7 linked regions of the Homo sapiens genome follow. The protein of the gene in region 7 purifies or fractionates together with the protein of the main gene of each other region. This does not show direct contact. Each region holds a gene or a part of one and is shown on either strand. Other genes may lie near its edges.

Evidence for each region.
Region 1: the proteins of GGH (region 7) and SYT2 purify together in Homo sapiens (co-immunoprecipitation; one large-scale study listed by IntAct). This does not show direct contact.
Region 2: the proteins of GGH (region 7) and LRWD1 purify together in Homo sapiens (affinity purification with mass spectrometry, with the first as the bait; one large-scale study listed by BioGRID). This does not show direct contact.
Region 3: the proteins of GGH (region 7) and ZMYM3 purify together in Homo sapiens (affinity purification with mass spectrometry; 2 studies listed by BioGRID and IntAct, with this or other methods). This does not show direct contact.
Region 4: the proteins of GGH (region 7) and ITGAV purify together in Homo sapiens (affinity purification with mass spectrometry; 2 studies listed by BioGRID and IntAct, with this or other methods). This does not show direct contact.
Region 5: the proteins of GGH (region 7) and DCAF8 purify together in Homo sapiens (affinity purification with mass spectrometry; 3 studies listed by BioGRID and IntAct, with this or other methods). This does not show direct contact.
Region 6: the proteins of GGH (region 7) and MKLN1 purify together in Homo sapiens (affinity purification with mass spectrometry; 3 studies listed by BioGRID and IntAct, with this or other methods). This does not show direct contact.

What each region holds. Positions count from the first base shown.
Region 1 is NC_000001.11:202,703,782-202,707,466, forward strand, and holds part of SYT2 (synaptotagmin-2), read right to left. Parts: intron 1-3,685. UniProt on the Homo sapiens protein: Exhibits calcium-dependent phospholipid and inositol polyphosphate binding properties. May have a regulatory role in the membrane interactions during trafficking of synaptic vesicles at the active zone of the synapse.
Region 2 is NC_000007.14:102,467,817-102,470,843, reverse strand, and holds part of LRWD1 (leucine-rich repeat and WD repeat-containing protein 1), read right to left. Parts: coding exon 3,021-3,027; intron 2,783-3,020; coding exon 2,657-2,782; intron 2,582-2,656; coding exon 2,467-2,581; intron 2,291-2,466; coding exon 2,190-2,290; intron 1,990-2,189; coding exon 1,782-1,989; intron 1,271-1,781; coding exon 1,198-1,270; intron 1,103-1,197; coding exon 962-1,102; intron 1-961. UniProt on the Homo sapiens protein: Required for G1/S transition. Recruits and stabilizes the origin recognition complex (ORC) onto chromatin during G1 to establish pre-replication complex (preRC) and to heterochromatic sites in post-replicated cells.
Region 3 is NC_000023.11:71,239,121-71,241,814, reverse strand, and holds the end of ZMYM3 (zinc finger MYM-type protein 3), read left to right. Parts: intron 1-470; coding exon 471-588; intron 589-706; coding exon 707-899; 3' UTR 900-2,191; downstream 2,192-2,694. UniProt on the Homo sapiens protein: Plays a role in the regulation of cell morphology and cytoskeletal organization.
Region 4 is NC_000002.12:186,666,410-186,670,094, reverse strand, and holds part of ITGAV (integrin alpha-V isoform 1 preproprotein), read right to left. Parts: intron 3,392-3,685; coding exon 3,312-3,391; intron 2,946-3,311; coding exon 2,865-2,945; intron 2,425-2,864; coding exon 2,319-2,424; intron 1,334-2,318; coding exon 1,175-1,333; intron 395-1,174; coding exon 281-394; intron 1-280.
Region 5 is NC_000001.11:160,256,021-160,259,705, forward strand, and holds part of DCAF8 (DDB1- and CUL4-associated factor 8), read right to left. Parts: intron 1-3,685. UniProt on the Homo sapiens protein: May function as a substrate receptor for CUL4-DDB1 E3 ubiquitin-protein ligase complex.
Region 6 is NC_000007.14:131,494,470-131,497,283, reverse strand, and holds the end of MKLN1 (muskelin), read right to left. Parts: 3' UTR 652-2,814; downstream 1-651. UniProt on the Homo sapiens protein: Component of the CTLH E3 ubiquitin-protein ligase complex that selectively accepts ubiquitin from UBE2H and mediates ubiquitination and subsequent proteasomal degradation of the transcription factor HBP1.
Region 7 is NC_000008.11:63,018,160-63,021,844, forward strand, and holds part of GGH (gamma-glutamyl hydrolase isoform 1 precursor), read right to left. Parts: intron 1-3,685. UniProt on the Homo sapiens protein: Hydrolyzes the polyglutamate sidechains of pteroylpolyglutamates. Progressively removes gamma-glutamyl residues from pteroylpoly-gamma-glutamate to yield pteroyl-alpha-glutamate (folic acid) and free glutamate.

The sequences.
Region 1 (3,685 bases), on a different chromosome or scaffold from region 7:
CCTTCATCCCATTTCTCCATTCACTTCTATTTTCCCATATGCCTAGTGCCAAGCTCACAGTTACAACCACTTACACCCTGTATTAAGATGCATGGAATAGTAATGGGTAAATTCCGTCTCTAATTGCAATATTTCCTAATTACTAAATTCCAGAGCCACTGTATCAACCCAATTATGGCAAGTCCTGCCAGAGTTCTCCATGGTCTGAGGACTCCCTGCCTTACTGAGAGGCACCTGACAAATGCCTCGGGGGAGCTTTCCTGACTCCCCACCCAGCTGCTGTCCTCCCCTGGTCCCAGACTGTCCAGTGATGAGGCCCTTGGGCTTCTAGTTTCTCTGCAGGGGATGGGAGGAAGTGAAGCAAGCTTTGTGATTGAGGAAAGCCTTGTGTTGACAGGCGACTATCCTGGGGTTGGAGAGCATCTGGGAGCCCTGTCACTCTGCACCAGCCACCATCAATGCTCCCAGCTTCAGAACTCCACTTTGGGGGCTAGGGGGACCCAGGAGAGGAGGAGAAACAACATGCCCTGGCCTTGGGGAGCGCCCAGGCTGATAGAGGAGACACGGTTATTTTGAGTTCTCCTTTACATCCCAGGTGCCTTTTACAGAGTAGGTGCTTAGTGCATTGGAGTGGAACGTGGAGGAAAAGGCGGGAGGAAAGTAGGAAGTAAGGAAGGAATGGGGTGCTCTGGCTCAGGCTGAGTTTAGACTCTGGCTACACCTGCACGCAAGGGTTGACTTTTGGGCTGTGAGTCCCATAGGGATCTGACTTCTCAGGTCTGGAGTCTCCGAAGGAGAGAAGCAGTCACACACCCACTAACTCCCATTCTCCCTGCCTTTGCAAGGGGCCCTCCTCCCCAGCCCACCCCTAGGACCCTGAATACACACATATGCACACACACACGGCTGCTGGGCTTCAGAGGAGCCGTTTAATTGCCGAGTTGAAACCTGCAAGGGCTTTTGGTGCTGATGACATCAGCATGCCATCACAGATAGGGCTGCTGAGGCTGGAGCAGCTCTGGATTCAGCGGGGTGTCCCATCATGCACTCAAGACTGCCCACCCTGGGGCCTCCCTCCTTGCTTCAGAGCAGGTGTTCCTGAAGGAGGTGCCAGAGCCCTTATGGAGAGCCCAAGGAAACCCAACATCAGGGAGGGAGAGCTGATTCAATTCCTCCAAGGAATCACTGCCTAATTTTTGTAAAGGCTGCTGCCTGATTTAAATCACCCAGCCTCCTGCTTCTACTCAACGCGTTAGTGGCCTCATCCCAAGGACCCGCACCTGTATTCTCGGGCTCCATTTGCCATAGGTAGAGCTGGTGAGAAGCGGCGAGGAGAGGAGGAAGGGTTCTGACCACTCAGCTGCTGTGGCCTGGAAGGCCCCCTGCAAAGTGCCTATGATCTGGGGATTTTGAACAACCACACAACTTCTCTGGGGATTTTGAACCACACAACTTCTCTGGGCCTTTGCCCGTTCATTGTAAAGTGGGGACAGCGATGGCGTAGCCGAGGACTGCAGTGATGAGAGCTTGACCGCCCTTGTGAGCCGCTCTATCCCCGAGCAGGGGAGCAGGAGGCGCAGGGAGGAGCCCTGAGGTTCCCTGTTGTGCGGGACCCACACTGACTTTGCCCTTTCTTATGCCTGATGCTTAGTGTTACTGACAGCAAAAGCTGAAATCCTGAGGTCCCCGGCTAAAGTGACCAAGGAAGGGCCTCTCCTGACTTTACAGCAGCAGGTAACCCCCCTTTCTTTCAGATTTGGAGGCTGCTTGGCCATTTTAATGGACCCTGCTACTCACATCCTACTTCCCTAAGTGTGAGGGGCTTTCAGAATCTAACCTCCTCCCTGGCACTCAGCCAGCAGGGACTTTATCCTCATCAGAAAATGATCCAGGGAGGAAGCTTCTACAATATCTACTGCTCATCTTGGATTTTGGGAGTCCTTTTTTTTTTTTTGAGACCGGATCTCACTGTTTTCCAGGCTGAAGTGAAGTGGCATGACCATAGCTCACTGCAGTCTCGACCTCCTGGGCTCAGGCGATCCTCCTGCTTAACCTGGTGTGCCACCATGCCCAGCTAATTTTTAAATTTTTTGTAGAGACAGGGTCTCCATATGTTGCCCAGCCTGCTCTGGAATTCCTGGGCTCAAGCGATCCTTCTACCTCAGCCTCCCAAAGCGCTGGGATTACAGGTGTGAGCCACTGCACCTGGCCTGGGGAGTCCTTCTGGATGTTTAATTTTAGACCCAGCCTCTCTAGGGGAGGGGGCTGGCAGCTAGGTGTTCCCCTGCCCTCCAGGCTCACAGTGACTCTCAGGTCCCTCTGGGCCTGGATCCAAATTTACCCATCACTCTGGCTACTTCCTTGAACTGTCAGTTCCAGAGATGAAAATGAAGGATTGCTGGGACAAATCCTTCCCAGAAATCAAGCTTTGGCAAGAAAAGACTCATTAGGCATAAAAACCGTCTTCGAGTGAGGGGGATGAAATGCAGGACTGACCACCAAGACGGTGAGGGCAACTCCTTCCCTTGAGTTTTAAGAATATCAAAGGTGGACAGTGCTCCCTGCAGCTGGAGAACCCAAGACAGTGTTGTGTGTGTGGGCAGGAAAAGGAGCACGCAGGCCACCCAAGGATGAAAAGCACTTACTCCTCCCGCGCCAGGCACTGTTCTACACGCTTTACAGGAATTAACCCATTTCATCCTCACCAAGAACAATCTACGTCATAGTTACAAATTTTAGCTCCATTCTACAGATGGCAAGACTAAAAAACAGAGTGTGATTGACTCGCCCAAAATCACAGCAAGTGGCAGAACCAGGATGAACCCTGGCAATCTGGCTGTAGTCACTATACTGCCACTTAGAAAAAAATCTCTGACTTGATGTTTCTCCAATGAAACTATATTATTTATCACAGGCTTCTGGAGTCCAGGAGAAGCCATAACTGAATCCCAGCTTCTCTGGCCTGGCTTCTCTGACTGAGTGGAAGATGAAGAATCAACTTGTTGCCTATGGATGGATTATTCACGTAGGGAATTTAGAACTGCATCTGTCTGGTGGTCCAGGGGCTACTTCTAAAATAACACGAATAGTTATCAGTTCTACAATACTACCCTGAGAGTTAAGCATTATTACCTCTGTTCTTTAGAGAAAACTGTGCAGACATTGTCAGATCATCCTGTTACATGCTCTCGAAGCTTCCTACATACCTTCATAACTCTTGGCACAGTCATGATGAATTCTTTATGTAATTATCTAATTGTGTGGTATTCACTAGATTGTAAATGCCACGAGGGCAGGAAACAGGTCTGTTTTGTTCCCACCTGAATCTCCATTGCCTAGCACAGATTCTCAAAATGCAATAGTGGAACGAATGCAGAAGGGATGCTGAGTGGCTCAGTAACATGTGTAGGGCCTGCGGCTGTGCTCACCTCCCCACCCAGAGAGACTACAATAGTGGCACATGGTAGGTACTCACTAATAAAATACTTGTTGCAAATGTCAGACTTTGTACTTAGCAGCCCTGGGATTTGAACCCAGGCCTGTCTATCTCCTAGCCTCCATTCTTTGGTGCTTCATATTTAACCACTGCACTGAGTGACCCTGCCCCCCCATTACTCCCTCTGACTTGCTGTTCCAGTTCTTAAAGAGTATCCCCACCACCCTGGACCTTCAGTGGTGGGGATAC
Region 2 (3,027 bases), on a different chromosome or scaffold from region 7:
CAGTGAGCCGAGATCGAGCCACTGTACTCCAGCCTGGGTGACAAGAGGGAGACTCTATCTCAAATAAAAAGTAAATAAATAGAAATGCAAAGCTTACCGTGGCTGACGAAGCCCGGCGTGCCCCGCCCAGGCACCCTTGCCACCTTGTTCTGGGCTGGGTCCACCCAGCTGTGGCCACATGGTGGAGCAGGCCAGCTGGCTCCCCTGCCACTGACCTTTGCACGTACCATTTCCTCCATGCAAGCACCTCCCCACCCTCCGCCCGCTGACTCCCTCACCAGGCTCCCAGGGAGGAAAGCGTGAGCCCCAGAATATCCATCTGCCGCTGGTCACCTCAGCAGAGTCCCCTGAGGCCCCCACGCTAGTGTCCCTCTGCCCGTTACTCTTTTTCCGTCTCCTTCGTAGCTGGCATCACACTGTGGGATTTTGATTGGCCACCTTTGCTGAGCATCTGTCTTCCCCAGTAGGCTGGGGGCCCCAAGAGGACAGGGACCCCTTGCCAAGCCCTGTCTCAGAGGCCTTCCAGGTGGGACAGATGAGCCAGAAAGCCTCAACGTGGCACTTCCAAAGCCTGCCTGCCCAGACACCACCTCACCTGCCCTCCGCTAGCCATCGGCCCCTCTTTACAGATGAGGACATTATGCCAGCACAGAGGACCATCACACTGCTGATGAGTGGCAGGAGTGGGCTGGATCACGTGGGCACAGCATGGTGCTGAAGCCCCAGGTGAAGGGGAGGTCATCATGGCCCAGTCCCACAGCTGAACCCAGGGTGAGAGCAGGGTCAGAGTCCTTTCCTCCAGAGCCTGGCAGAAAGGTGGGACAAGCCAGCTCTGCGAAGAGGCCTCTAAAAACAACCCTTATGGTTACCCGGGTGTGCCCAGGCTGCTGTGAGCCCATCTGGGCCAACAGCCACCCTCTGCAGAGGCCTGGCTTCCAAGGCGCCCCCTGCCCAGCCTCACCTCCTCTTTTGGGGCTGGTCCAGCCGCACGTCCCAGCAGCAGCAGCCGCCCTCGCAGCCGGCCAGCAGGCGGGCGTCCGGGCAGGAGGCGACAGGGCAGAGGCGCAGGGGGATAGAGGTGGTGTCCAGTGTGAGCAGCTGGCTGCCAGTGGGCAAGGGGGAACAGAGCATCAGACCCAGACCGAGGTGTCCCTGCCCCAGCAGCTGGCCACTCCCCAGCCTCACCCGAAGCATCACCTGGCCTGGAATTCGTAGTCCTGGTTGGGCACCCCGATGTCCCAGAGGATGATCCGCTTGTCATAGGAGGCCGCTGAAGAGGGGGTGGGGTAGGGGAGAAGTGGCCCTGAGATGACCCTGCTCCCTCCTGCTGGCTGCATCCCAGGCTGAGCCCACGGTCCCAAGGCCAGCCCCTCCGAGGCGGGGAGGGCGGGCCGAGGCTAGGAGACAGGAACACTCCTGGGCCCCCAATCCCTGTTTCCTCCATCTAACCTGATGCGGTGGCTCCAGCGGCCACTTCCTGTGGCTCATCCATCCCCCTTGACAGGGGCGCCACACCCGGGGGCAGGGGCATCCCCCCAGGTCACTGACAGGGGACAGAGTGGCCCAGGCTGTTGGAAAACTCCGAGGCCACAGAGCAGGCTGTGGATAAAGCCAGGGTTGAAGCGACATGGCTTCCTGCCAAAGCTAGAGTCGGAGCGGTGCAGACTGGGGCCCGGCAGGCGCCCGAGCTCACAGCCATCCCAGGGAGGGGAGCGTGGAGGCTACTGGGGCAGCAGGACAGGGGTGCTTGGGGGTCCCAGGGGTGAAGGGGAGGGGCTTACTGAAGAGATGGGTCTCGTGGGCGGGGCTGAAGCACAGGGTGGCGATGGCCTTCTTGTGGGCTCGGATGACCCCGCAGCAGAAGCCGGCACGCACGTGCAGCAGCCGGACCAGGCCCCGTAGGCCTGCAGCCGCCAGCACACTCCAGCGCTTCTTGTGGCCAGCCTGTGTGACCACCATCAGAGCGGTCCAGGCCACAGAAAAGAACTCCTGGGCGGGGGTTAGAGTAAACAGTCACTGGGGCAGAGCTATTGGTGTGAACACGCGGGTAGCCCGGGCCTGGGGGAGGGAGCCCCAGCATGAAAGAAAAAGGCCATGGGGCAGGGGGCCGAGCCTGCATCCATCCCCATGCTGCTGTTCAGGAGTCAGTCGGGCACCCTTGCCCAGCAGGGACAGGGCCTTGCACTCACCTCGCCGGGTGCCTTGTACTTGTGGAGCACGATGCCCGTCTGGCAATCAATTACGCACACAGCCTCCCCGCCGCACGTGGCCACGGTCTGGGATGTGGCCCCTGAGTGCCCGGTTTTGAGAGGTCGGATGAGCAGAGACATTTCCCATCTAGGTCCTCCCTGCAGCCTCCTCCTCCCAGCCTTGATGGCGCCTTTTAAGCTCTGTCTCCTGATCCCCCACCCATCCAGGCGGCCCTATTTCCAGCGGCCCTTGCCCCGCCTGCCCGCCACCATGTACCCTCCTCCCAGGCCGGCTCGAAGGCACAGGCCCACAGCTGGGTCTCGAGGTCCTGGGGGCTGTTGTTCTTGCTGTGGCACTGCAGGAAGTGCAGGGGCTCCAGCTTCACAGCAGGCTGTGGGGGGAGAGAAGGGTCACAGCTGCCCAGCCCCGACTCATCTGCCACCTGCTCCTTGCCACCTCAGCTCACCTGGCTGCCATCGGAGCCTGCCACAGGGCTGCCCTCCACCTGGGCCGACGGGGAGGCACACGCCCGCTTGCTGGGAGAGAGGCTGAGTGGGACGTCGTCTGGCCGTTTCAAGGCCGCCAGTCTGGCCTGTGGAGGGGGCCTTGTGACCATGGGCCTGTCTGCCTGGGGCTTCCTTCCTCCCCATCACAGGCTGGACCCCACCTCACTGCGGATGCAGGAGGCCCAGGCTGGCCCGGGGTCACCTAGGGAGTGAGCCAGGACCTGGGGTGCTTCCTGGGCACATGCCCAGGACGCCTTGGTCTCCTGAAGCTTCTCCAGGGAGGAGGGACTGGGCTGGCCTCAGAGCCCTGGGAGCTGCACTCACCCTGGGC
Region 3 (2,694 bases), on a different chromosome or scaffold from region 7:
CAACAACTGCACCTTGGTTTCCATTTTTTCTGTCCCTGGACTTCTGTCCTGTCTGAGTGAAGTTTCCAAGGTCCTTTCTCTGGACCCATGCTTCTACCTGGACTAATGCACAAGGGGTTGGGGTCATTGCTGTTTCTCTATCCCAGAAGGCAAGCCCACCCTTGCAGTAGGGTCTGTTTTATCAGGTCTTTTGAATAACTTCTGAGATCACCTCTTCAAGATAGCAACTTGGGGGAGATTTTAAAGAGAGTCTTTGGCAGTGGGAACTGGGGAGGGTTGCATAACAACAGCCCGACAGGATGTTGGGTTGGCGTGGGAGAGGGAGACTGACCTCTTCTTCCACCTCTCCATCTTGATGAGACTGTAATTTGTGTCGTGACGCCTTCTCCCTGTGCCCTGAACTGTGCTCTTGGATGTGGCTCATGGAGCCTGTGTTCTTAATGAGTCTGAATCATTTCCCTCCCCTATAGACACGGGTCCTGGAAAACGGAAGAGAGAAGATGAAGCCCCTATCTTAGAGCAGCGTGAGAACCGCATGAATCCCCTCCGCTGCCCTGTCAAGTTCTATGAATTCTATCTCTCAAAATGGTGAGTTGGTGGGTTGGCAGGAAAAGCGTTAGCATGGGGACCCGAGGGATCTACTTTGCCTTGGTACTGATCTTCTGTCCTGCCACCCCCACTCCCACTCCCACCCCCGATGTTGCAGTCCTGAAAGCCTCCGGACTCGCAACGATGTGTTCTACCTGCAACCTGAACGGTCCTGCATCGCCGAGTCACCTCTCTGGTATTCTGTGATCCCCATGGACCGCAGCATGTTGGAGAGCATGCTCAATCGCATCCTGGCTGTGCGCGAGATTTATGAGGAACTGGGTCGTCCTGGGGAGGAAGACCTGGACTGAGCTCGTGTGCCATCCATATCCATCTTTCACATCAATGTCTGTCCTGTGGCCATGTCCCTCAGGGTGACAGGCCCAGGAACCAATGCTACTCATTCTGAAGGGCCCTGACTGCTCCTTTCCGCTCACCCATTCCCTGCCTTCTCTAGGAACCCTGGCTTTTATCTTCTTCCGTACCACTTGACAACCATGGGGCCCTGGTCTTCTGTACTCAGGGGCTGGTCTCCCAGTGATGGGCAAAAGCCAGCTTGCCCGTTTTCTTTATGCTTCAGAGTAAACCCCTCCTTCTGGGTCCAGACTCTGGGTGGAGTGTTAATAGCTCTGGTGATCCTGTTGGCTTTGGGTTTCCTGACCCATCCCGCATAGGTAGAGCCTCTTGTTCCTAGGCATGACCTAGGGAAAAACCCAGCTGCCTTCTCTGCCCTGTGCCCACTCCCTTCTCTACTCTTCCCCAGCACCATGCCAAAAGGTCTTATCTGAAAGGTAAGAAATAAACAATGAAAGCGATGAGGGGACCATTTACATAAAACACAGAGCTTAGACACTCTTCCCCTCCTATGAAATAATTGGTTGTTGGCACCATCTCACCACCGCATATCCCTCACCCCCTCGGCAAGCACCAATCCTTGGTGCTGCCGTTTTTAAAATCTTCCAAATGCCTTTTTTTCCTCAGAGGCAGAGAATGACTAAGTACGGGGAGCAGACTCCTGTTGTGCAGACTCCTGTCCCCTTGGTTTCTGTGTTTGTCTCTCTGCCATCTTAGGTTGCCATGAGCCATGGTGTCAACATGCTTAGCCCCCTCTGTAACTGCCTCCCTTTAGTTCAATGGACAGACCTCCCAAGGCAAAAACTACCTTCTGACTTGGGTTGAGGCTGGGTTCCCCTCTATTGTTCCCCTATCATAAGAGCTAGGCCAAGCCTATGGGACCTTGAGTCATGCAGGATGGGATCTGTGGTCAAAGGACAGGCGAGGAGCTGTGGGCGCAGGGCCTGCCGCCACTGCCTACATCTTCTCTCTTCCCCATCTTGCATTGGAGGTCCCAGAAAACAATTAGCTTCTGGCAAAGGGGGTACCCACTTCTTTCCCTGTTGACTTTGCTGTTTCCCAGGCTCCTTTTTGTGTTTTTATAACTGTCACCAGTTAGCCACTGTTTAAATTGTATATATTGTTCTGAGGCGCCTGGCCTGTCCCTTCAGTGAGCCATGCCCACCCTTGTGTTGTAGTGAGAAGCTGTTGTCACGACTAACCTTCTGTCTCTGAAATTGTTTGTTTCAAATAAAGAGTTAAAATTGTCTTTTGTCTTTTCTGGGTGATGGATATAGAGGAGCAACACTGGATAACTTCAAATCTCTCCAAGTGTAAACAAGTCAGGTGTTTGAGAATCGTTCTTACTTTACTGTCTTACTTTGGATCTACTGGGAATGTGGTGTTTTTTTTGTTTTTTTTGTTTTTGTTTTTGTTTTTTTTTTATAACAAGTTTCCAAACACTTAAGGAAAAAAAAATACTCACTCACTAGCTATGTATTAAGGACCTATTATGTTTAAAGACCTAGATTACGTGCTTCAAAAAATACAAAAAGACTGGTTAGACCAGGATCCAATCCCCAGCAGGCTCCCAGGCTATAGGGGAGACCAAATAGTACACAATTAGTCATAATACAGGCAGAATAAAATGAATAGTGCTATGGGAGGACAGAGGAATAAATAACTCACTTCAGGTTTACAGGGAGGCTGGGTGCAGTGGCTTGCGTCTGTAATCCCAGTACTTTGGGAGGCCAAGGTGGGAGGATTCCTTGA
Region 4 (3,685 bases), on a different chromosome or scaffold from region 7:
TAGGAGGAGGCCCAGAAAGAGGACAGTTAAAGAACTAGAGTAGGAGAATCAAAGTTGGGACATAAACTAGTTTTATTAGCCATCTACAAAAATAGCTCATTTGAAGAAAATATGGCATTAATCTGACTAGGAAAAAGGAAAGTGAGAGGAATGCATGGTATAAAAATAAATGTAGTTGTTCAAGCACAGCTGTTGTTATTTTTGAAATGTTCTTTGGCGTCAGTTCTATAGTCACATATTTTTAAATGTCTATGGTGCACATATTTGAAATGGCACTTACCAAAGTGTGAATATCTCCTTCACTGAGGGCAAGATCCCGCTTAGTGATGAGATGGTCCCGCTCACCTTGCCCGGCAACCGTGTCATTCTTTTCAGTTGTTTGCAAAGATGAGATCTAATGCAATCACATTAATAAAATGGTGGTAAATGATAATGAAAAACATTTTACATCAGCATTTTGATATAAACTCTTAGATATGATTAAAAAATAGTGAATGAAAATTTAGTATGACAGAATATTTACCACTCAGTATATAGTGAGCAGTAAGGACAGAAAATAAAGATTAGAGTCTTTAATATGTACCAAAAAAGTTAGCTCTCCCTAACCATTATTTTCAGCCCTTGCTTAGCTAGAGTGGAAACTGATGAAACATACAGAAATGGCCTGAAATTCCACAGTACATTTGTGATGTCAATCATGGGTATATCTTTTATTTTGTTTCTTCACCTTTCCTTAGATCATATTGTGTAATAGTTTCTAGTGCAAATCTATGATGGAGATGACTATATCCAAAAGTCAAGATAATCATGAGTAAAATGGTATAGCTTATCCCAAAGGTAGAAATTTTAACAACAAAACACCCTTGATGTGATATTATGCCCTGAAGAAACAACAACGTGATGGAGCCAAGGTCAAACTGAGTCACTGAAGGACACATCTCATGAGGCTCAGTAAGCACTCTATGAAGATGTGGTTCACTAGACATCACAGAATCAATTCTTACCCATTATACAAATGAACTTATCCTAAGTGTACTGCTTATGAACTAAACCATTTTTTGCAGAGTGGGTTTTATATTAAAATAGTTGTTTTATTTTATGAATTTCTTTTACAGGTTTAGAAAGAAGGCAATGAAATATCATTGTAATGAAGAGCTGCTATTAAGCATATTACCTTAATTCTCAAAGGGTTGATCTCCATATCTGAAGTGCAGTTCATTGGTCCATCAATATCATAATGAAGGATATACAACAGAGTGTTATTATTATATTTGTAAGGCCACTGAAGATGGAGCATTGCCTTGCTGAATGAACTTGGACCATTGTTTCTCAGCTAAGGAGAAAAAAGAAAATGTATCTACACCTTGGGCAAAAATCTGTTCCATAATCCTTCCCCTACATCAACTTTAGAAATCATGTTAGCAATAGGTTTTAAATAACAGCAATTTCCACAGTTAACCTCTAATTACAATGTGACCATTTTTATGCAAAAATGATCAAACTCAACATTTGTCTCTAACACAGAGTAATATGTGTCAGGATAAAAATATAAACAAGGTTGGGCACAGTGGCTCATGCCTGTAATCCCAGCACTTTGGGAGGCCGAGGCGGGCGGATCTCTTGAGGTCAGGAGTTCATGTCCAGCCTGGCCAACGTGGTGAAACCTGTCGGTGAAACCCTGTCCCTACTAAAAATACAAAAATTAGCCGGGCATGGTGGTGCACACGTGTAATCCCAGCTACTCAGCAAGCTGAGGCAGGAGAATCGCTTGAACCCGGGAGGTGGAGTTTGCAGTGAGCTGAGATCGCGCCACTGCACTCCAGCCTGGGCGACAGAGCAAGACTTCACCTCAAAAAAAAAAAAAAAAAAAAAAAAAAATATATATATATATATATATATATATATATATGTATGTATGTATAAACAAAAGGCAAAATATTTAAAAGTTATTAATGAAGGATGACAAAGAAAATTTCTTCCTATAGAAATAGTTTTGATTATTTGCCATAGGTATTTTCAATTTTTAGCCAGAACTACAAAATGCCCATGAGAAAGTACCAATGACATTTCTTTATTCAAGTAGAACTAATTTATTTTAAACAACAAATTATATAAACTGCTTTATTTAAACAAGTCTATTTGTCAAATAAAAATGAATTTATGTATAGGGAAAATATTCAAAGAAATCTCTGACACATACTTAACCAATGTAGAGTTTACATAAAAATTACATAGAATTTTTTTTTTAAAGTAGCTTAGTTGTTCCTCTCTTCGTTGGCTTGCTCACGAGGTTTGAGTAAAATCTAACAACTGCAAACCTCATAGATGTGCTGAACAACTGGCCCAACATCTTCTTCAGTCTCAGGGTTCTCCTTGTGCTCCCAGTTTGGAATCGGAAGAAAGACATGATCAGGACTCGAGACTCTAAACAATGACCAAAGAAAACCTACCATGAATATCAAAATGATATAGTCAGTTCATTTTCAAAAGTACCCCATATTCATTACTCAAATAAATAAAATTAGATTTAATTTTAAAAAATACTTTAAAAGAAAACTAATGAACACACACATGCACAAAAACTGCTCTTATGAAATGTACACGTAACAGGTGAATTGACAATTTGTGTAAAAGTTCAACAAAATTATTTTGTGCATGTTGTTGCCATGTCTTGTTCCTTTTGAGGATCACCCAGTATTGGGGGTTTGGAACATACCTAGGATTTTATTTCTACAGAAGCTAATGCCCTAGTAAAACCACCACTAAACATGCAGGGTCTATTGTCCAGAAAAGGCTAAGGCCTGACAGTTACCTTTAAAAAGCAATCATGAGAATGAGATACTCAACTAAGTATTCATACTGACCCTCTTATCTCAACTGCAGCTAAAACAGCAAGATCAACTTTGTGAGATACAACTGGGCTTACTTTGTCAAATAGATTTGAGCTGAAAAAGAAAAAAAAAAACTTAAAAATGAATTATGCATAACAACCAAGAACATACAGAGGCAAACCCAGTGAAACTAAAAATTAACAAACGAAACAAGTGTAAAGCTTATACCTCAAAATAGTTATTTTCATTAACACTTAATTCCAAGAAGATGAACATTTTCTTTCTGGATTTTAAATTTTGTTTTACAAACTCAAATCTGACAATAAAATTATTCTTATAATGTAAATATTGATTTTAAAATGCTATAGTCAAGCAATAAAATTTAATCTGCTACTTTATATTTAAAGTATATTACATAGTATATTTACAACAAATAATATTTATTTGATAGTTATAAGTGAATATAAGTTGTTTTCATACCTTTGGATTTGTAAGTCAAATTTCACAGAAGTATCCATCTCTGACTGCTGGTGCACACTGAAACGAAGACCAGCTAAGAGCTAAAGGAGAGAGGAAAAGATAGTAATGCTAGTCAATGTCTAATTAGCAAAATTTCAAATCCAATGTCTAAATAAAAAATAATGTTCTAAAATGGGGTTTTTCTGAGCTTACAATAAAACTGAACAAAGATAACTAAATCTTATTTTCTATCAAACCTATTTTACTTAATATACCTGGACCAATCCATAAGAGAGCCTATTTAACAACAATTATTAATCATAATTATACCTCCTTATAATACTAACCATCTTTCTAAAAAGTGCAAAAGTAAATGTTTGTTGATCCAGTGAAAG
Region 5 (3,685 bases), on a different chromosome or scaffold from region 7:
TTTTTTTTTTTTTTTTTTTTAAGAGACAAGGTCTTGCTATGTTGCCAGCCTGAAACTCCTGGGCTCAAGCAGTCCTCCCAACTCAGCCCCCCGAGTAGTTGGGATTACAGGTACATGCCACTGCACCTGGCTAAGAGAACTTTCTATAAAAACATCCAGGACCATTTATCTCAGTTTAACTAATTCCTAGGGAAATCTACTTTTCATTTTGTTTCCATCTCAATTTACATTTACATCAGAAGTCTGTTGCCATTAACAGTTTTTGCCATTTATATTTCAAATTTTTCTTAAACTGGAGAGGATTTAAGATGAAAAAATGATGCTCCCAAGGTACAACTTACAATAAAACATTAAAGAGAGGCTTAAAACCTCAAGAAGTGCCTTCCTACAGGTTAGGTTAGAAGAAAGGGTCTAATGTTGGATTCTAAGTAAGGTTAACAAAACATACCTGGTAATGTGGCAATCATTAAAGTACACCAGAGGAATACAGTAACTTGACTACCATTAGAGGTAAACCCTATAGTAGCTTTCCAGATGGCTAAGAAAAAGCCAGGAAGAAAAAAAAAAATGGCACGTGAGGCAAATATGTATGCTTCACTTTAGAACTTGGCCAGACTTCCTTAAACAGTAACTTCAGAGGATAAACAGCAAATATCTAATCTAAAATGTTTGCATTGACCCAATCCACTAGACATACTATTAATACATTTCATTAATAAGATGACATCTTTGTCATATTAATTACTCCCCAATGCCCTATTGGCAACCTCAAGGCAGCCTCCGTTCATTAATTTATCTGTATCATAACACATTCCTGGGGTTAGATGGTACTTGAGAAATCTGGCTTCTGGCCCAGGAACTATGTCCTACAGAGGTAGAGATAAAAAAAAACTGCTGCAAAGAAGTGACTAATTCATAAAATTCATCACTCGCTAATTTTTGAAAAGCTTTCAAAGACTTTCTACTCACTCCAAGAGCAGAATGACTAAATCAATAAAGAGCAAGTAGCCTCCTTTTCTGACTGATTTTAACAGCAATGATGTTTCTTGGCTACATTTGTAAAAATAAAAGATGAAGTTTTTAATATTACTATAAAGCTAATCTAAAACTCACTGGCTTTTGGCTCTAAAATGAAAATATACAAAGTCACTACCCCATGCCTATTGCTGATTCAATTAATTCAGTTGCCTGTGTTCCAAATAGGTGAGGGTAAACAGCAGATTATCTTAGCTCACTGATAATCTGCTTTAAAAAAAAAAAAAGCTAATTCAATCTCAGAGACTTAAAAACTAACTCTAACACCAATGTTATGCAATAAAAAGTCTGGTTTGGATACCGTTATTTCTCTTTTATAATCTGGATATTTCCTAGACATGTTTAGAATAAACTTTTATACAGTAGAAATAATGGAGTAATGAATCTATCTACTGAAAGCATTTTAATAGTCACTTTATGATTTTAAAAGCCTATTACTCCCCTGATAGAATACAAGACTTAGAGCACGAAACTCAAGATCCCAGTCTTTCACAACAGGGTGCGCTTCTATACAATGTCTCCTACTAGAATCTGTTTGCTTTTAAAATGCCAGTATTGTTTTAAACTGGCAACAAAGAGGCTGCTTTCTTTCAGCTCTCTGTAGACAAGCTTCTGTCTTAGGTTGGTCCTACTCCACACTAAGGACCATGGCACTGGAACTGATTCTTTTTTTTGAGACTAGGTCTCGCTCTGTTGCCCATACTAAACTGCAGAGGCGCAATCTCAGCGCACTGCAGTGATCACTGCGCAATCTCAGCTCTACCTCCTGGACTCAAACAATCCTCCCACCTCAGCCTCCCAAGGAGATGGGACTGCAAGTACTTGCCCCATGCTTGGCTTTTTTTTTAAACTTTTTGTAGAGACAAGGTCTCAATATTGCCTAGGCTGGACTTGAACAACTAGGATCAAGTGATCCTCCCACCTTGGCCTCCCAAAAGTGCTGGGATTACAGCCATGAGCCAGCCGCACTCAGCCTGGCAGATTCTTATACATTTAATTGACTGCATTTAGCAGGGTGCAGTGGCTCACGCCTGTAATCCCAGCACTCTGGGAGGCTGAGGCAGGAGGATTGCTTGAGCCCAGGGGTTTGAAACCAGCCTGGGCAATATGGTGAAACCTCATCTTTACAAAAAATACAAAAATTAGCCAGGTACGGTGGCGTGCACCTGTAGTCCCAGCTACTCGAGAGGCTGAGATGGGAGAATCACCTAAGCCCAAGAGGTCGAGGTTGCAGTGAGCCATGATAGTGCCACTGCACTCTAGGTGACAGAGTGAGATCCTATTTCAAAAATAAATAAATAGACTGCACTTTAAGAGGTTGGTGGTGGGAACTAAAAGGTCACAAGCATTCTTAGCCTCCCACTCTAATCATCCTAGGAAATACTACCTAATAAGATGTCACAATTCTTAAGTAAACACCTAAAACCCTGGAAATATAAAAATATCTTCAAGCTGGGTGCTGCGGCTATGCCTGTAATCCCAGCACTTTGGGAGGCCAAGATGGGAGCATCACTTGAGCCGGGCAAGTAAGACCTCATCTCTTTAAAAAAACAAACAAACAAAAAAAAAACAACCAAAAATTAGCTAGGTATGGTGATATGCCCCTGCGGTCCCAGCTACTCAGCTGAGGTGGGAAGATCACTTGAGCCCAGGAGTTTGAGACCAGCCTAGGCAACAAAGTGAGACCCTATCTCTACAAAAATAAAAAAAACTTTAGAAAGATAAAAAGTTTACAGTGTGGTCCACAGACTAGAAATACTGATTTACTACATATAGATGTCACCTGGACATTCTTACCCAGCACATAAGGAAATAAACAGTCCAAGTTATCCCTCTTTCAAAGTATTTCCTTTTCTCCTCCCATCCTTTCCTTCACCCGACATGGATCTTCAGAGTTCATAAAAACACAAATGATACAAATGCAATCTCAACCCACCTCACCACCACCCTGGAGAATCCTTACCTTACAATGGAGAATTTAGACCCTGGATGATGGTAATGAAAAGTTCATCAAACCTAAAATGGTCACTGGTCTGAATGACACAGCTGCTTTCATTGTGATATTATCAGTACTTAATTTTCATGTGCCCTTGCCAAAAAGATACGAAAGAAAAGCCAACAAAAGGTTTAAAACTCTTCATCTGTGCTGTCATATTATTAAGACGGTCCAGCTGTGGAGCTGAAAAAAGAACTCTTTGGCCGGGCATGGTGGTTCACACCTGTAATCCTAGCACTTTGGGAGGCTGAGGCGGGCAGATCACAAGGTCAGGAGATTGAGACCACCCTGGCCAACATGGTGAAACCCCTCCTCTACTAAAAATACAAAAATTAGCTGGGCATGGTGGCGCATGCCTGTAATCCCAGCTACTCGGGAGGTTGAGGCAGGAGAATCGCTTGAACCAGGGAGTCGGAGGTTGCAGTGGGCTGAGATCGCGCCACAGCACCCCAGCCTGGTGACAGAGCAAGACTCGTCAAAAAACAAACAAACAAACAAAAAAAACCTCTTCATTCCTAACTCCCCAGCCCTGATTCACTTTTAAAAAAAGAGACCTTTTCCTCATACAGTTCTTTGATAATTTGTTGATGAGGATCACTGTATAGCCCAACAAGAAGGAAAAAATGTATTCCCTTCATGGCAAAAAAGGAAAGT
Region 6 (2,814 bases), on a different chromosome or scaffold from region 7:
TTCACTCCAGAATGCATGATCACAAAGCCACGATGTAAAGCAGACCAGGAGGTGGAAAGGGCAGAGAGGGGATCTCATTACTAAGAGTCCCACCACTCGGCCCCAGTGACCCAGGACTTTTATCTGGCATATTTCTCAGCTTAGTTTTTTCAAGATTTGGCCCATAAAGTGTCTTTCCCCTTTAATGGGGACAGGGATCCAGAATTTTCCCAAACTGCAACACTTCTAGGTTCTCTCCCTTTACTATCTTTTCTACAGTGAATTTTCCATTTCAGTTCAGTCTTTCCTTCTAGTTCCAGCCTGTACAAGCATATCCCCTTTAAAGAGGAACATAAGTCCAAGTGGACAAAGCAAATAAAATAAGGGTGGTCATTAACAGTAGATAGAAGAACATTTCATGAAATAATTTACCAGTGGTCTTTAAATAAGTGGAAGCCTCCCCGCAGAAACTTTGTGAGCATGGCCGGTACTTGTTCATCTGAGCACCGTCTCAAAGGAAAACACCCAAAGGCCCTTCGAAAGCGTATCACTTTCCTTTTGGAAGCCTAAATAAAACTCACCTTTCTGGGGGAAAAAACACAACTGTAAAGTACAAAAACATTTTAAAAGTTCACTTCAAAAGTAGTTTGAGCAAATACAAGAGATATCTTGTAGCATCCATATATAACATTTTATTAAGAAAATGAACAAAATACATTCTTTCTCCATATGTACATTACATACAACATAATTCTACAATTGCCATTTTTAGCAGATCACTCATTTATTTATTCACAAAGTAGAATTAACACATTTACCAAAGCTGGGATCTGAAAATTATTTGTACTATAAGAAAAAAAAAATCCTAAAAAGTCCATACAGATTGGATAAAAGATAAGCCAGAGATCATGAGGGGAATGGGGAAGATTGCAGAACACGACAGAGCCCAACAATGATTTGAAACAATTGATGTCAGAAGAGATCTGATACCCATAAAGCACTTCTGTTTAAAAGCTCCAACCAGCTCATGCCAGCTTTCCAGAGTCCCATGATTTCCATTTAAGACCATGTGGATACTTTAGGATACGGCCCTGACCCCACATTGCCACAGAAGAGGGGGTAAGAGTAGAACCAAACAAGTTAGCGGTTTTCTCCACACATTGAGTCTCATCTGAAATACTACTGAGGTGCAAAATGTGTGAATCTCAGCTAATGTGCACAGAAATACAATTTTTTTTGAGAGACATTTGCTTAAACGTGGTAAAGAACTCTTGTTTTATGGACTCCTTGCTTCATGTTCATTTTGTCTGTTTTTCTTTTGGCTTTTGACAATAGCTCATCCTTTTTGAGTGTGAGTTTAATTATGGCCATATTAAAAAGTCCATCATAAACAAAGACTCCTCCTCATGGTATGAATATGCTCCATATGCCCATAATGGTGCATAACGGACTTAGAAATTCCAATGAGTCTTAGGGTTGAAATTTCCAATGACCTGAGCAAGGCAGCTCCCTATAGCTTCTGGATAACATTTTACACCCAGAGTTCAGGCTTAAACAGACCTATCAACACAATTATTTTCGGATTGTCTGTCTAGAAAACGGCAATGCTCAAAGGAATATAAATAAGGGTGGGGGGACATATGCTTCCAGCCTGGTCCTTTCTCCATGTGGTAAAAAACAATGGAATGGCTGTGTTAATTTTTTTTTTAATCTTTTCTGGCCTTTACTATGTTTGGTAATGGAAATAAGTCAGGGAAAACAAAATGAACAGGTCTCATCACTTAATTAATACTGGTTTTTCTTCTTTATACTTAGTAATTTCCTAGTTTTTTAAATGATAAACCTATTTTGACAATCACTAACATCAATACATTTTATCGTAAGTCCCATATAAGATATTTAACATTCTCCAACTTTCGGCTCAGCTGGTTACAGCACCACATTTCCAGTCCAGGAGATGTTTTCACAAACAGAAGGAGCGATTCACAGCATTAATAAGCAGACTTGGAAAGACAGATTTTATTGGCTATGGAGGAAGTTGTATCTTTCTTCTCAATCTAATTTTCAGTCCAATTTTGGTTTTGAGAATCTATCTCTATCAGAGGGGATCTTAATTTCTGACTACTGAGTACTTCCAATTTATAAAAGAGCTGACTTTTAAAAAATTCTAACATCTTTCCCAAACTGTTTAGAAATATGCCATATTTGAAAGACGGAATACTGTTTGTTCCCAAGACCAACACAAGAAAAGGAGGTCCTCATCTTCGCTTTCCTGTACTCTTCCTCTGAGGCTAATAACTCAACTGTACATAGCTTTTGGAGTGGGAGCAAGATAAGAATCTCTTTAAAAAGAGCATTTTAAAAATGTATGTGTATGTGTATGTATGTATATTTATAAAGTATGTACGCATAAAGGAATCTGTTCACAGGAAAATGTTACATTATTTTCAACTCTAAATTATGCAGAAGACTATACAAAGTAGTTAATTAATACTATACTATCTACTTTCTTTTCAAAAGACATTTCACACAAATCCAAAAAGTAAGCCGGCTTAAAGAATAAGACAATCATAACACCTCTTGCCCAGGCTAATTGTAATGCTTAGGAAAGGAAGTCCACTTTTATTTTTCTGAACGGATGATTTGTAAGTAAGGAAGAAAATTGTTTACAATTGATCAGTCACCAAAATAATTTTTTTTTCTGGGAAAGGAAAAAAAATCCCAAGAAAAAGATCAGTACATGACTCTTTAATAAATTTATCTTCCCCCACGGAAGACTACTCCTAAGTAACCTTTTGGACTTTGATATCTTATTAAATTTGGGAGTGAGTTGAT
Region 7 (3,685 bases):
AGCAGACATAAAACAAGAAGGGAAACAGAGCTGTTGACAATTGTCAAAGCTGATAGATAGACACCCAGGGTTCATATTACTCTCTCTATGTTTACATACTCATGAACAATTCCACAATTCAAAAAAAAAGTGAATATGTGTAATAGTTACCTTCAGAAAAATGTACATATTTGTCTCTTCTTCAGATGTGCCTTTCCTCATTTTGATTTAAAAAAAACAAATCTCCCCTCTATTATTTTCTGCTTTGGAATTGTAACCATGACCACCATCAGAAAGTACTTGGAGAAATGAAGTGAATTAATGAAAGAAGAGATATCTAGGGGTAAGAGCACTGTCTGTTCTCATCCCAGTAAGCTTTCTGACTAGAGAGCAGGCCACAGAAGGGAAACATTTTATCCCAGTTTTGTGGGTATTCACGAGAGGAAACACCTGCCTCATGCAGCTCCAGGCACTCAGCTCCCTGCCTCCCCCACTTCCGTGTGACACTGCCGTTTTTCCCCTCTATTCTGGGACTACCTGTGAAGCTACCAGCAAGAGACCCACAGGCTGGGGGACTAGGAAATTGTTACATAGAGTTAATTGAAAGGCAGACCTTCTAGTATATTGGATATAAATCTTTTTTATGATTTAAGACTATTTTTGTCCTCAATAATGCTTCATGCGTTGGAAAAGATACATATATATAAGAAATCTTCAAAAAGCTCATGGAAAACGTGTATTATGAAAAAAATTATGCAAGGATTTCACCATTTTTTTGCACCAAAATAAACTTGTAGTAACTTGTATGAACAGGATCCAGTATGAGGCACTAAGAAGGACAAGACATCAGTTTTAAAAGAACCCCTGTAACAGCAATATGAATTTTGCTAAAATTGAAGGCAGAAAAAATAGCAAATTTACGGTGAAGCTTGGATGGAAGAATGGTAAAACCGCTGATGCTTTACAAAAAATTTATGGGGATAATGTCCCAAAGAAATCAGCAGTTTACAAATGGATAACTTGTTTCAAGAAGGAATGAAACAATGTTGAAGCCCTCAGGGCAGACTATTCACATCAATTTGCCAGGAAAATATGTATCTTGTTCGTGTCTTAACTGAAGAAGATCGCAAATAAACAGCAGAACCAACAGCCAATACCACAGACATCTCAGTTGGGTCAGCTTACACAATCCTGACTGAAAAATTAAAGTTGAGCAAACTTTCCATTCGATCGGTGACAAAACCATTGCACACAGATCAGCTGCAGACAAGAGAAGAGCTTTCAATGGACATTTTTAACAGGTGGGATCAAGATCCTAGAGCATTACTTTGAAGAACTGCCACTGCAGATAAAACACGGTTTTACCAGTATGAACCTGAAAACACAATCAAAGCAATGGCTACCAAGAGATGGAAGTGGTCCAGTCAAAGCCAAAGTGAACTGGTCAAGGGCACAGGTCATAATGTTTTTTTGGATGCTCCAAGGCATTTTGCTTGTTGATTTTCTGGAGAACCAAAGAACAGTAACGTTTGCTTTTTATGTGTTTTCAGAAAGTCAGCCAAAGCTTTAGCAGAAAATCGCCCAAGAAAGCTTCACCAGAGTCCTTCTCCAGCATGACAATGTTCCTCCTCATTCCTTTCATCCGAGGGCTATTTAGTGAGCATTTTGATGGGAAGCCATTAGGACCTTATGGTCCTGATTTGGCTCCTTCTGACTTATTCTTGTTTCCTAATCTTAAAAAAATCTTTAAAGGGCACTCATTTCTGTTAATAATGTAAAAGACCGCATTTGACGTGGTTCAATTCACAGGACCCTCAGTTCTTTAGGGATGAACTAAAAGGTTGGTATCATCATGGGCAAAAGTGTCTTAAACTTGATAGAGCTTATTTTGAGAAATAAAGTTTACAGTTTTTATTTTTATATTTTAATTCCATTTTTCCCACAAACTTTTTGAAGTCACTGACATTCAGTAACGAGTGAGATTTACTCTTCTTTAGTAAACTGCATTACTAAAAGACCAGTGCAGTTTCCTGAAAACTAGGAATCATGCCCTGCCTCACTGATTTAGACAGAAGTATCAAGAGTGGAAAGAAAATATGCAAATAATAAAGCATCTCAAGTGTTCCTATTTTGGAGGTGGGAGAAAATTTTCAAATGAGCCTGGTATGGCATAGTCAAAAGCAGAACCAACATGGAACCTGATTTCCTAACTTCCAATCCAATATTCTATCATTTAAATAATTAGGCATTCATTCAACATCTATGAGCCCTAGAAACACAAAGGAGAGTAAGATACAGTTCCTGATCTCAACAAGCTTTTCATCTAGAGGGATGACAGAACAAGAGCAAATACATGCATTAAGAAACGTTCCCACACAGCACAAAGCACCAAGGTTGTGGAGAAGAGGAATAATGGTAGAAAAGGCCTCTAGGGATGACAAGTGGCCTGGGTTTTTCGAGATGGCTAAGAGTTCATCAGGAGAAAGGAATAGGGGAAAGGGGGAGCTTTTCAGAGAAGAGGAAAGCACATGAGAAGCAGTGCAGAGGCAAGAAGCATGGCTCTGTGGAGGGACTGTGTGTAGCAAACAGGTCGTGCAGGGTACAAGCTAGAGGTGAAGGCAGGGAGAGGGCATGAGGAAATAAGCTCATAAATCTAGACTTCATCCTCCAATGCAGAGGAGCCACTGAGGAGTTTTGTTCAGGCAATACTATCAGACTGGCACTTCAGCAGACCACGAGTGGGTGGCTGGAAGATGGGTTTGTGGAAGCCTTAAGAGGCTGCTGCTGCAGCAATCCAGGTGGCAGGTGGTTAATGCTGATGTAGCAAGGTACATCGGATTGGGAGGACGAAACATGATTAATACTTCCAAAGCCCTTCTACTGTCCCTCCCACCCCTTCAGCCCAGTGAGAAGGACTCTCATAATTATTCATCACCCCAACCTTTCCTTAGATTTACCACCGAACATTGTTTCTTTTTTGCCAAATTTTAATCATCATATAAATGAAAACATACAGCATGTATTCCCTTGTGACTTGCTTCTTTAACTCAAAATTGTCTTCATGATTCATTCAGTGGTACATGCAGGTGTGTTCACTGATTTTAATAGCTGTATAGTATTACTTATCCTTTGCACTACTGGACTTTTGAGTTGTTTTCCATTTTTTTGCTGGTATGAACAAAATGTCACGTACATTTCTATCTACATGAAATTATTTCATTAAGATATTTTTTAACCAATGAATAAAACTGCCAGGTAACAAAACTGGAAAATGTTTGATTTTACTAAGAAATGCCAAAATGTTTTCCAATCGTAAGTGCATGACAGCACCTGCTGTGCGACATCCTGGGTAACACTAGTTATCAGCAGGCTTCTTAATTTCGCCAATCTGATGGGTATAAATGGTTTTTTACTTTGGTTTCCATTTGCATTCCCTGATCAGAAATTACACTGAGCAACTTATCTCACCAAGCCATAAGTGGACAGGACAATCAAGTTTTTTTGGATGGTATCCATTCAAATCTCATATCCTTTTTTTTTTTTTTTTTTTTTTTGAGGCAGAGTCTCGCTCTGTCACCCAGGCTGGAGTGCAGTGTGCAATCTCAGCTCACTGAAACCTCCGCCCACTAGGTTCAAGCAATTCTCCTGCCTCAGCCTCCCAAGTAGCTGGGATTACAGGCGTGCGCCACCACGCCTGGCTAATTTT